3 linked regions of the Homo sapiens genome follow. The protein of the gene in region 1 interacts with the protein of each later gene in a biochemical or structural test. Each region holds a gene or a part of one and is shown in the gene's direction. Other genes may lie near its edges. The genes, in order: CDC42, MCF2 and G6PD.

What was found.
Region 2: the proteins of CDC42 (region 1) and MCF2 form a complex in vitro, tested with the Homo sapiens proteins (2 studies listed by BioGRID).
Region 3: the proteins of CDC42 (region 1) and G6PD form a complex in vitro, tested with the Homo sapiens proteins (one large-scale study listed by BioGRID).

The regions. Positions count from the first base shown.
Region 1 is NC_000001.11:22,080,209-22,083,708, forward strand, and holds part of CDC42 (cell division control protein 42 homolog isoform 1 precursor), read left to right. Parts: intron 1-1,513; coding exon 1,514-1,586; intron 1,587-3,500. UniProt on the Homo sapiens protein: Plasma membrane-associated small GTPase which cycles between an active GTP-bound and an inactive GDP-bound state. In active state binds to a variety of effector proteins to regulate cellular responses. Involved in epithelial cell polarization processes.
Region 2 is NC_000023.11:139,706,015-139,709,845, reverse strand, and holds the start of MCF2 (proto-oncogene DBL), read left to right. Parts: upstream 1-1,678; 5' UTR 1,679-1,740; intron 1,741-3,831. UniProt on the Homo sapiens protein: Guanine nucleotide exchange factor (GEF) that modulates the Rho family of GTPases. Promotes the conversion of some member of the Rho family GTPase from the GDP-bound to the GTP-bound form. Isoform 1 exhibits no activity toward RHOA, RAC1 or CDC42.
Region 3 is NC_000023.11:154,530,703-154,533,911, reverse strand, and holds the end of G6PD (glucose-6-phosphate 1-dehydrogenase), read left to right. Parts: intron 1-242; coding exon 243-336; intron 337-783; coding exon 784-970; intron 971-1,109; coding exon 1,110-1,345; intron 1,346-1,449; coding exon 1,450-1,526; intron 1,527-1,631; coding exon 1,632-1,724; intron 1,725-1,821; coding exon 1,822-1,912; 3' UTR 1,913-2,521; downstream 2,522-3,209. UniProt on the Homo sapiens protein: Catalyzes the rate-limiting step of the oxidative pentose-phosphate pathway, which represents a route for the dissimilation of carbohydrates besides glycolysis.

The DNA.
Region 1 (3,500 bases):
ATTACACTAGCATAAGTAGACTTTGGAATGGAAGCCAGCTTTTCTGATTCTTAGTCTAGTTTTGGATATGAACAATCTAGTAAAGGAGGGTTGTTTTTGAGTCTCTTAAGTGTGATTTAAGAAAATAATCTGTTTGGTTTGAGAGCTTAACCACATTCATTCAATTTCTTTGTTCCTGTTTTTAAGAACCGACTTTCCTTTAACTGTCATCTCCCTCATGCCCTTGCTTCTCTTCTTTACATTTAAATAAGCTCTGGAACAATCTGTTAAAACATAAGTCAGAAAATCAGAGTAGGTACCTAAAAGTTAAGTAGGGCTGGTCTTAAAATGTGGCATTCTTCTCCTAGTTGGAAAGCTTTGCTTTTCTTTTTATAGATATCATTTAATTTTAAAATTTTTACTGTAAATTGACAGATTATAGTTGTATATGAAAGCATTGCTTTTCAATTGTAAATTAATTCTAAAGACTCCAGAATTTGTGTTGGGTCTTTTCCCATTTAGCATTGTTAAACCTCCCATTTTCACAAATAACTTCGTACAACCGATATTAGCATATGCTTTACTGAATTTGATAAGGGTTTTATGGTCTATTTACATATTAAGCATCTTGTTAAAGAAGATGTCTTAGATCATGCAGTTTGTGCCCAATAACATGAATTTTACTCATAAAATTCCCAGCTGGCTGGGTGCAGTGGCTCACACCTGTAATTCCAGGACTTTGGGAGGCCGAGGCAGGTGGATCATGAGGTCAGGAGTTTGAGACCAGCCTGGCCAACATAGTGAAACTCTGTCTCTACTAAAAATACAAAAATTAGCTGGGTGTGGTGGCATGCACCTGTAGTCCCAGCTACTCAGGAGGCTGAGGTGGGAGAATCGCTTGATCCCAGGAGGCAGAGGTTGCAGTGAGCCGAGACCATGCCATTGCACTCCAGCCTGGATGACGCAGTGAGACTCTGTCTCAAAAAAAAACTTCCCAGCAAATAATCTGCCAGCTTTTTCTTGGACACTTTGAGTACTTTGAGGGAACCGTTATTTCTCTCAAATGGGCTTGTTTATAACAAGGCTCATCTTTTCTAGGACTCTGAAAGGAAGAAAGGTCATGGATCTAGGATATTTTATTTCTAGATGAAAAGGAAATGGTCTATGAAGAAGTAGTTTCTTAGGAATCAGATTGAATGTTGAGGTAGACCACTGTCTGAAAAGTTTCAAACTTGAACAGGTTCATTTTGTGTAGCTAGAGGACTCTGCTCCTGTGACACCTCTAAACCTTCTCTGGCTCTTTATCCAGGCTGCTGGGGTAGAGCAGAAATCTCAGAACACATCCTTTGTCTTTTTCCAGGAATCATTTAGCTCATGCAAGGACTGGTTGGCAAGATTGGTTATATAAGGATGATGGATGGACTAGGGGACGATTAAGTCTTAGCAAGGAAACACTGCCTTAGCTTAAGAGTTGTCCTGTCCCATTTTAACTCTCTCCTTGCACACTAACAGTGTTGTATTTTTTTGTTTTTAGGTTTTTGACAACTATGCAGTCACAGTTATGATTGGTGGAGAACCATATACTCTTGGACTTTTTGATACTGCAGGTGAAAACTTAATGTCTTTTATACTGTTTTGATCTTTAACAGTTGCTAGTTGTCTGTCTCTTGTGGACATTTTGAGAAACTAGCACATGAGCAAAGTACTTGCCTTTTGTTATTAGTTAGCAGGATTGAATATAATGATTGTCGATGCTTGACCAAGGAGCAGTCCCAGACCTGGGTCGGCAAATAGGAGTTTGGAGTACCCTGGGTGAACAGTGTAGTAGATGAAGTAGAGTGAGACTAGAGTGCATCATACAAGCTCCAAATTGAACTAAAATCCTGATGCGTGCACCTTGCAGAGAACTGGGGACTGCATTAGTGGTTGGGGAGGGACTAAGGGAATGAATTCATAGGAATCATGCCCACTGATTCTCTCCCTTCACCCCTACCTGCTCCTTTTTAAAGCCTAGAGTTTCCTAAATATGCCTAAGGTTATAAGGTCATAAGCCATTTACAGTATTTATTATTATTACTCTCTTGATATTTGAAGGCATATTCAATTTATGTGTCTAATAACATGTTTAGTTTCTTACGATAGATAGCTTATTTTAAACTGTATCTGAAAATATTTTGAGAGTGAACTATTATCTGCTCACAGTATTGACATTTGTCAGCTATCCAAATTGTAAGAACAAATTACTTTCTTCCTTAAATGTACCTAATTCCTCAGTGCTATTTCTTGTTTTCAAGAGTGGCTGCACATCTTAATTTCTGACTTTTCTCTATGTGCCGTCTTATTATCAGCTCAGTTAGCCAGAGGAAAATCTCAGAAAGATATCCTTTAGAGTATCTTTAGAATGTAGGAATTCTAAACTTTGTGCTTTGAGTTACTGTTACTGTTTGCAAGTTAACATGTTGCTTCCATGGAATGTGGTGTTACACTGTGTACCACGAGGAACTATTTGGATTTAATTGAGAACGTGAAATGGAGAGACAGTAAAGATTAGAGAAATTTTTAATACATTAAAATCATAAAAGTAATGGTATATTAAATTTGGAATATAGAGAAAACAATGACCCATAATGTCATGATAAATGAGGGGTTTTCTTCTGTGTTCATTTGTGTCCAAAGGCACAGAGAAAATTTTTATTTTTTTTTTTTGTTGAGATGGAGTTTTGCTGTTGTTGCCCAGGCTGGAGTGCAATGGTGCAATCTCGGCTCACCGCAACCTCCGCCTCCCAGGTTCAAGCGATTCTTCTGCCTCAGCCTTCTGAGTAGCTGGGATTACAGGCATGCGCCACCATACCCGGCTAATTTTTTTGTATTTTAGTAGAGGTAGGGTTTCTCCATGTTGGTCAGGCTGGTCTCGAACTTCTGACCTCAGGTGATCCGCCCGCCTTGGCCTCCCAAAGTGCTGGGATTACAGGTGTGAACCACTGCGCCTGGCGAGAAAAGATAATTTATGGCTACTTGTGGTTGAAAATTAGTATTTTCAGATTTCAAAGTTTATTATTTATAAGCCTTTACATTTTCTGGCGAGTACTTTTGAAAGCTTTTTTGATGCGTAGTGCAATAAAAATCATTTTAAGGCCAGGCGCGGTGGCTCACGCCTGTAATTGCAGCACTTTGGGAGGCTGAGACAGGCAGTTCACCTGAGGTCAGGAGTTTGAGACCAGCCTGGCCAGTATGGTGAAACCCCATCTCTACTAAAAATACAAAAATTAGCCCAGTGTAGTGGTGTATGCCTGTTAAGTCCCAGCTACTTGGGAGGCTGAGACAGGAAAATTGCTTGAACCCAGGGGGCGGAGGTTGCAGTGAGCCGAGATTCTGCCACTGCCCTCCAGCCTGGCTGACAGAGTGAGACTCCGTCTTTAAAAAAAAAAAAATCGTTTTAAGTGTTCAGTGTGATGCATTTTGCTGACCCTCCACCATAATAAAATGTGTAACATTTTTATCACCCCTCAAATTTTCTGTGG
Region 2 (3,831 bases), on another chromosome or scaffold:
TCTGGCCCAGAAAAAATCCAGGCATTTATGGTCATATTATCAATTACCATATGATCCAGCAATGCCACTACTGGGTATATATCCAAAGAAAATGAAATCAGTCTGTCAAAGAGATATCTACACTCCCATGTTCATTGCAGCACTCTTCACAATAGCCAAGATATGGAAGCAACCTCAAGAAAATATTTTTTATATATACTGTATATATATATATATATATATATATATATGAATGATAGCATTCGTGTCTATATAGTGTATATATATACGAATAGCATTCGTATATATAGTATATGCTATATATGCTATGTATATAGTATATGCTATATATGCTATGTATATAGTATATGCTATATATACTATATACATAGTATATATAGCATATACTATATACATAGTATATGCTATATATACTATGTATATAGTATATGCTATATATGCTATGTATATAGTATATGCTATATATGCTATGTATATAGTATATGCTATATATGCTATGTATATAGTATATGCTATATATGCTATGTATATAGTATATGCTATATATACTATACTATATATACACAAATGCTATTCAGCCTTTAAAAAAGAATGAAATTCTGTCATTTGTGACAGTACGGATGAACCTAGTGGACATTATGCTAAGTGAAATAATCCAGACACAGAAAGAAAAATACTGTATGATCTCACTCCTATGGGGAATCTAAAAAAGTCAAACTCATAGAAGTAGAAAGTAGAATGGTGGTTTCCAGAGGATGGGGCAGGGTTTTGGGAGATGTTGGTCAAAGGATGCATCATTACACGTAGACAGGAGGACAAAGATCAAGAGATCTATTTTTTAATTTTTAAATTTTTTTTCATATTTTTATTTGTATATATTTTTTGAGATGGAGTCTTACTTTATTGCCCAGGCTGGAGTGCAGTGGTGTGATCTCAGCTCACTGCAACCTCTGCCTCTTGGCTTCAAGCGATTCTCCTGCCTCAGCCTCCTGAGTAGGTGGGATTACAGGTGTCCGCCATCACACCCAGCTAATTTTTGTATTTTTAGTAGATATGAGGTTTCACCATGTTGGCCAGGCTTGTCTCGAACTCGTGACCTCAAGTGATCCACCCACCTCGGCCCCCCAAAGTGCTGGGATTACAGGTGTGAGCCGCTGCGCCCTGCCAAGAAACCTATTGTACATCATGATAACTATAGTTAATAACAATATATTGTGTACTTGAAAACTGCTAAGAGAGTAGATTTTACATGTTCCCACCACAAAAAGGATACATATGTGAGGTAAAGAAAGTATTAATTAGCTTGATTTAGCCATTCCAGGATGTATACATACATCAGAAATCATATTGTACACCATACAATTTTTATTTGTCGTGTACAAAAAAAGATATGCCCAGCTTCTTCTGCATTTTGTGCAGAAGTATTTTGTTTTCAAACTGTCGGGCTAACTCTTGAGTGGGCGTTCTGTTTCTCCAGATTTGTCCTTGTAAATAAAAAAAAAAATTAGGTCTCCTTCCTCTACTGTGATACAGTGTATGATTTATAATTTTGTTTCTGGGTTCTACTTCAAGTCAAGGCTTCTCTACACTTTCAGTTGCTGACATCAGATTGGCTTTGAAACTTTTTTTCATGTTAAGAGCAAGAAGGCTTTTGTTCTTGGAGCAGGCAGAGAGTATTGTACATTCTTTTGGCCGAGGAAACAGAATGAGCTGCGACAGTCTTAAGGACAAACATTTGTGGTAAGTATTTCTTTACCTTAGAGTAATATAAGAAATGGATTGGGGCAATGAGTGGGTCAGTCTTGGAATATTTTTATAGATAGCATCCCCCATAGCCAGTCATTTTCATTCTTGTAGTAGTTTCCCCTTTTCCCCAGAATCCCCCATTTCTAGGACCAATGATTTGCAGGACACAGTGCAGTTCTTGTAAAGGTGTATCTGTCCATACAGACCGCAATAGCCTGCTTTGGGTTTCTCTGACAGTTCTTTGTCTACTGTTCAGTTTTTTCTAAAATAATTAGGATTCCCAAGTAAAGGCAGGTGGGAATTTCTCAACTCTGGATTAGAACTTCACCACTGTAAACCTGGAACTATTAGTATAACAAATCTGGTGTGCACCTGGGCTTCATGGGATGGCTGTACCTTGGTGTGGTTCCTATGCAATGTATGGGCCTCAGTCTCTGAGCCGTCTAGGGATTAGGACTTGAGAAATTGCCTTGTGAACTTGCATATGGTTGGCTTATAAATTTGGACAGCAGATTATTTATTTTCAGTGGGTAAAAGACCATTCCATTATTTGTGTCCAGTTCTTTTTAAGCACGCAAATTTTCCAGACCAAGAAGAACTACCTTGGTCCCCAGAAGGTAGCCGGGGGGATGTAGACTTGGAGAGCAAAGAAAAATGGGAGGTCTTGAGGGCAATCTTCCAAAAGAATATGGTGATGTTTCTCACATTTTTTAAAGCAGGGTCTCTAGTGAGGCAAAACCACATTTTATTCTTGCCTCTATAGTATTTATTTGTGGAGGTAGAAAGTTTCTGGGGAAGGAGTGGGACTGTTTATATGAAGAACCTAGAGGTCTTCTCAGAATGAAAGGATTGGAAACTCCAACCCTTTTTTTCTCTGATATGCAAGGTTCTTGAAAGTTGCTTGAGGGGCCCAAAAAGATCCTAAGGAAAACTCACCAAACTTGGTGAGAAAGAGGTAGAAAGGGATGGGAGCAGCTCCCTCCCAGAGCCCTCCATCCTTCTTTTTTCATCTGAGCTGGTTACTCTGCCGGCTAGCTGCACATCTCTTTCTGAAATTCCCTTTGTCTGTGCTCCTGTATCGGATCATTATTTCCTAGATTCATTGTCTTGCTCTTCATTGATGTACTTCATCATTTTTTTGGGGAATACATTCTCTACTAACTTCTTTATATGGGTTATAAACTTTTATTAATAATAATAATAATAATAATTATGTCTGAAAATATCTTAGACAACCTTTATTTTTGTTTGAGAGTCTGACGCAGTATAAAGTTCCAAGCTGAAAAACCTTTTCCCCCCTGATTTTGTGTTTATTTTTCCATTAGTTTGTAGAATCCAGTGTTGCTATTGAGAAGTTCAATGTCATTTTGTTTCATTTTTTTTCAACTTTAATTTTAGATAAGGGGGTACATGTGCAGATTTGTCATATGGGAATATTACATGATGCTGAGGCTTAAGGTACAGATCCTGTCATCCTGGTAGTGAGCATAGTACCCAATAGTTGTTTTTTTTTTTATCCTCCCCACCTCCCTGCACCCTCTAGTAGTCCACAATATCTGTTGTTCCCATATTAATGTCCATGTGTGCTCAATGCTTAGCTCCCTTCATAAATGAGAACATGTGGTATTTGGTTTTCTGTTCCTGCACTAACTTGCTTAGAATTATGGCCTCCAGCTCCGTGCATGTTGCTGCAAAGAATGATTTCTTTCTTTTTTATGGCTGCCTAGTATTCCATAATGTATATGTAGCACATTTTCTTTATCCCATTTACCACTGATGGGAACCTGGGTTGACTCCATGTCTTTGCTATTGTGAACAGTGCAGTGATGAACATACAAGTGCATGTGTCTTTTTGGTAGAATAATTTCTTTTGGGTACATACCCAGTAATGGGATTGCTGTGTCCAGTGGTAGAATTGTTTTAAGTTCTTTCAGAAATCTCCAGACTGCTTTCCACAGCGGCTGGACTAATTTACATTTCCACCAACAGTGTATAAGTGTTTGCTTTTCTCTGCTGCCTTGCCAGCCAGCATCTGTTGTTTTTTGACTTTTTAGTAATAGCCATTCTGACTGGTGTGAGATGGTA
Region 3 (3,209 bases), on another chromosome or scaffold:
TGAGCTATCAGACCGGGCTGGAAAGGGCTGGACCCCTACACAGCCAAGCACCCCACGGTTTTATGATTCAGTGATAGCATCACCATGTCCTTCCTTGATTTAAGGGGACCTGGAAGACAAGGGGGATCAGGAAGTGAGTCTTGCAGCTTGTCACTAGGAAGCCTTGTTTGGGGTCCCCATGCCCTTGAACCAGGTGAACAGGGCGGGGAGCTAAGGCGAGCTCTGGCCTCTTCCGTCCCCAGGGACGTGATGCAGAACCACCTACTGCAGATGCTGTGTCTGGTGGCCATGGAGAAGCCCGCCTCCACCAACTCAGATGACGTCCGTGATGAGAAGGTAGGGGGTGCACCCCAGTCCCCAGGAGCATGCCCTGTCGCAGGCCCATCTGTGACGAGGCACTGAGCTGGGGTGTGCATGCAGAGCAGGTGTCCTCAACCCCGGAGAAGTCACCACCTCTGAGCACAGCGTGGCCTCCCGGAGGTGACCTGGACTGGCAGTCATGAAGCCCAAGTTGTCATGTCCCAGGCCTGACAGTCACTATGTGACCAGGGAAGGCCATTGCCTCTCTGGGCCTCAGCTTGTTCATCAGAATAGACTCGAGATGGACCAGGGTGGTCCTGGAGGGTCCTCAGGGAGGGGCCCTGAGCTGGGCCTCTGGCAGGGTGAGCAGAGCCAAGCAGGGGCCTCCTCCTGCCCTGAGGGCTGCACATCTGTGGCCACAGTCATCCCTGCACCCCAACTCAACACCCAAGGAGCCCATTCTCTCCCTTGGCTTTCTCTCAGGTCAAGGTGTTGAAATGCATCTCAGAGGTGCAGGCCAACAATGTGGTCCTGGGCCAGTACGTGGGGAACCCCGATGGAGAGGGCGAGGCCACCAAAGGGTACCTGGACGACCCCACGGTGCCCCGCGGGTCCACCACCGCCACTTTTGCAGCCGTCGTCCTCTATGTGGAGAATGAGAGGTGGGATGGTAGGTGATGCCTTCGAGGCCCAGCAAGGCAGAACTGGGCATGCCCTGTGTGCGGGCACTGGAGCTCCCACTGAGACACTCACGCACTGGTCCACACCCTGAGAGAGCTGGTGCTGAGGCTGCCCTTTCCGCCACGTAGGGGTGCCCTTCATCCTGCGCTGCGGCAAGGCCCTGAACGAGCGCAAGGCCGAGGTGAGGCTGCAGTTCCATGATGTGGCCGGCGACATCTTCCACCAGCAGTGCAAGCGCAACGAGCTGGTGATCCGCGTGCAGCCCAACGAGGCCGTGTACACCAAGATGATGACCAAGAAGCCGGGCATGTTCTTCAACCCCGAGGAGTCGGAGCTGGACCTGACCTACGGCAACAGATACAAGGTGCCCTACAGAGAAGGAGCAGTGTGGAGGGTGGGCGGCCTGGGCCCGGGGGACTCCACATGGTGGCAGGCAGTGGCATCAGCAAGACACTCTCTCCCTCACAGAACGTGAAGCTCCCTGACGCCTATGAGCGCCTCATCCTGGACGTCTTCTGCGGGAGCCAGATGCACTTCGTGCGCAGGTGAGGCCCAGCTGCCGGCCCCTGCATACCTGTGGGCTATGGGGTGGCCTTTGCCCTCCCTCCCTGTGTGCCACCGGCCTCCCAAGCCATACCATGTCCCCTCAGCGACGAGCTCCGTGAGGCCTGGCGTATTTTCACCCCACTGCTGCACCAGATTGAGCTGGAGAAGCCCAAGCCCATCCCCTATATTTATGGCAGGTGAGGAAAGGGTGGGGGCTGGGGACAGAGCCCAGCGGGCAGGGGCGGGGTGAGGGTGGAGCTACCTCATGCCTCTCCTCCACCCGTCACTCTCCAGCCGAGGCCCCACGGAGGCAGACGAGCTGATGAAGAGAGTGGGTTTCCAGTATGAGGGCACCTACAAGTGGGTGAACCCCCACAAGCTCTGAGCCCTGGGCACCCACCTCCACCCCCGCCACGGCCACCCTCCTTCCCGCCGCCCGACCCCGAGTCGGGAGGACTCCGGGACCATTGACCTCAGCTGCACATTCCTGGCCCCGGGCTCTGGCCACCCTGGCCCGCCCCTCGCTGCTGCTACTACCCGAGCCCAGCTACATTCCTCAGCTGCCAAGCACTCGAGACCATCCTGGCCCCTCCAGACCCTGCCTGAGCCCAGGAGCTGAGTCACCTCCTCCACTCACTCCAGCCCAACAGAAGGAAGGAGGAGGGCGCCCATTCGTCTGTCCCAGAGCTTATTGGCCACTGGGTCTCACTCCTGAGTGGGGCCAGGGTGGGAGGGAGGGACGAGGGGGAGGAAAGGGGCGAGCACCCACGTGAGAGAATCTGCCTGTGGCCTTGCCCGCCAGCCTCAGTGCCACTTGACATTCCTTGTCACCAGCAACATCTCGAGCCCCCTGGATGTCCCCTGTCCCACCAACTCTGCACTCCATGGCCACCCCGTGCCACCCGTAGGCAGCCTCTCTGCTATAAGAAAAGCAGACGCAGCAGCTGGGACCCCTCCCAACCTCAATGCCCTGCCATTAAATCCGCAAACAGCCCCTCCTGTCCCCTTGTCATTTGCTTCCCTGAGGACCCACTTCCTTGTCCCACTCCCCAAGTCACCCGGGTGCTTCCTCTGTGGCCACTGAGGAGCCTCCTCACTTCTGGTTCTGACCCCATGTCCAGCCATGACCATGTTTGGTGTCAGAGACACCTCCTGAGTCCTCCTCCGCTCCACGCATATTGTCATTGTGAGACCAGCTTGAGGTGCAAGGATGTGGGGTCACCTTCCGCTCTTACTGTCCATGTCCCTGCCCCACCCAAGATGACTTCCAGCAACACTGCCAGTCCACAGAAGTATTTAGGAAGGAGAGGGGATGGGTTTTGTGACTGATGTCAGAGGCCAAGGGAGAGGGGACAGTCCACAGTGATGCACAGCCAGGCCCAGCCACCCCTTCCAGGCAGAAGGGCCACACACTGGGCAGCTCTCAACATAGGCTGATTCTCCCAGTTCTGGAGGCCAGAGTCCAAGATCCAGCACTCCCGCCAGAGGCCCAAGGGGAGGGTCCTTCCTGCCCTCTCCAGCTCCTGGGGAACCAGGCATCTTGGGCTGGTGGTCACCTCACTCCACTCACTCTGCCTGTCTTCTCGTGGCCTCCCCATGGTGTGACTTCTATGTCCTAACTCAGCGACATCTGCAGACCTCCTATTTCCAAATAAGGCCACATCAGGAACTCCCAGGAGACA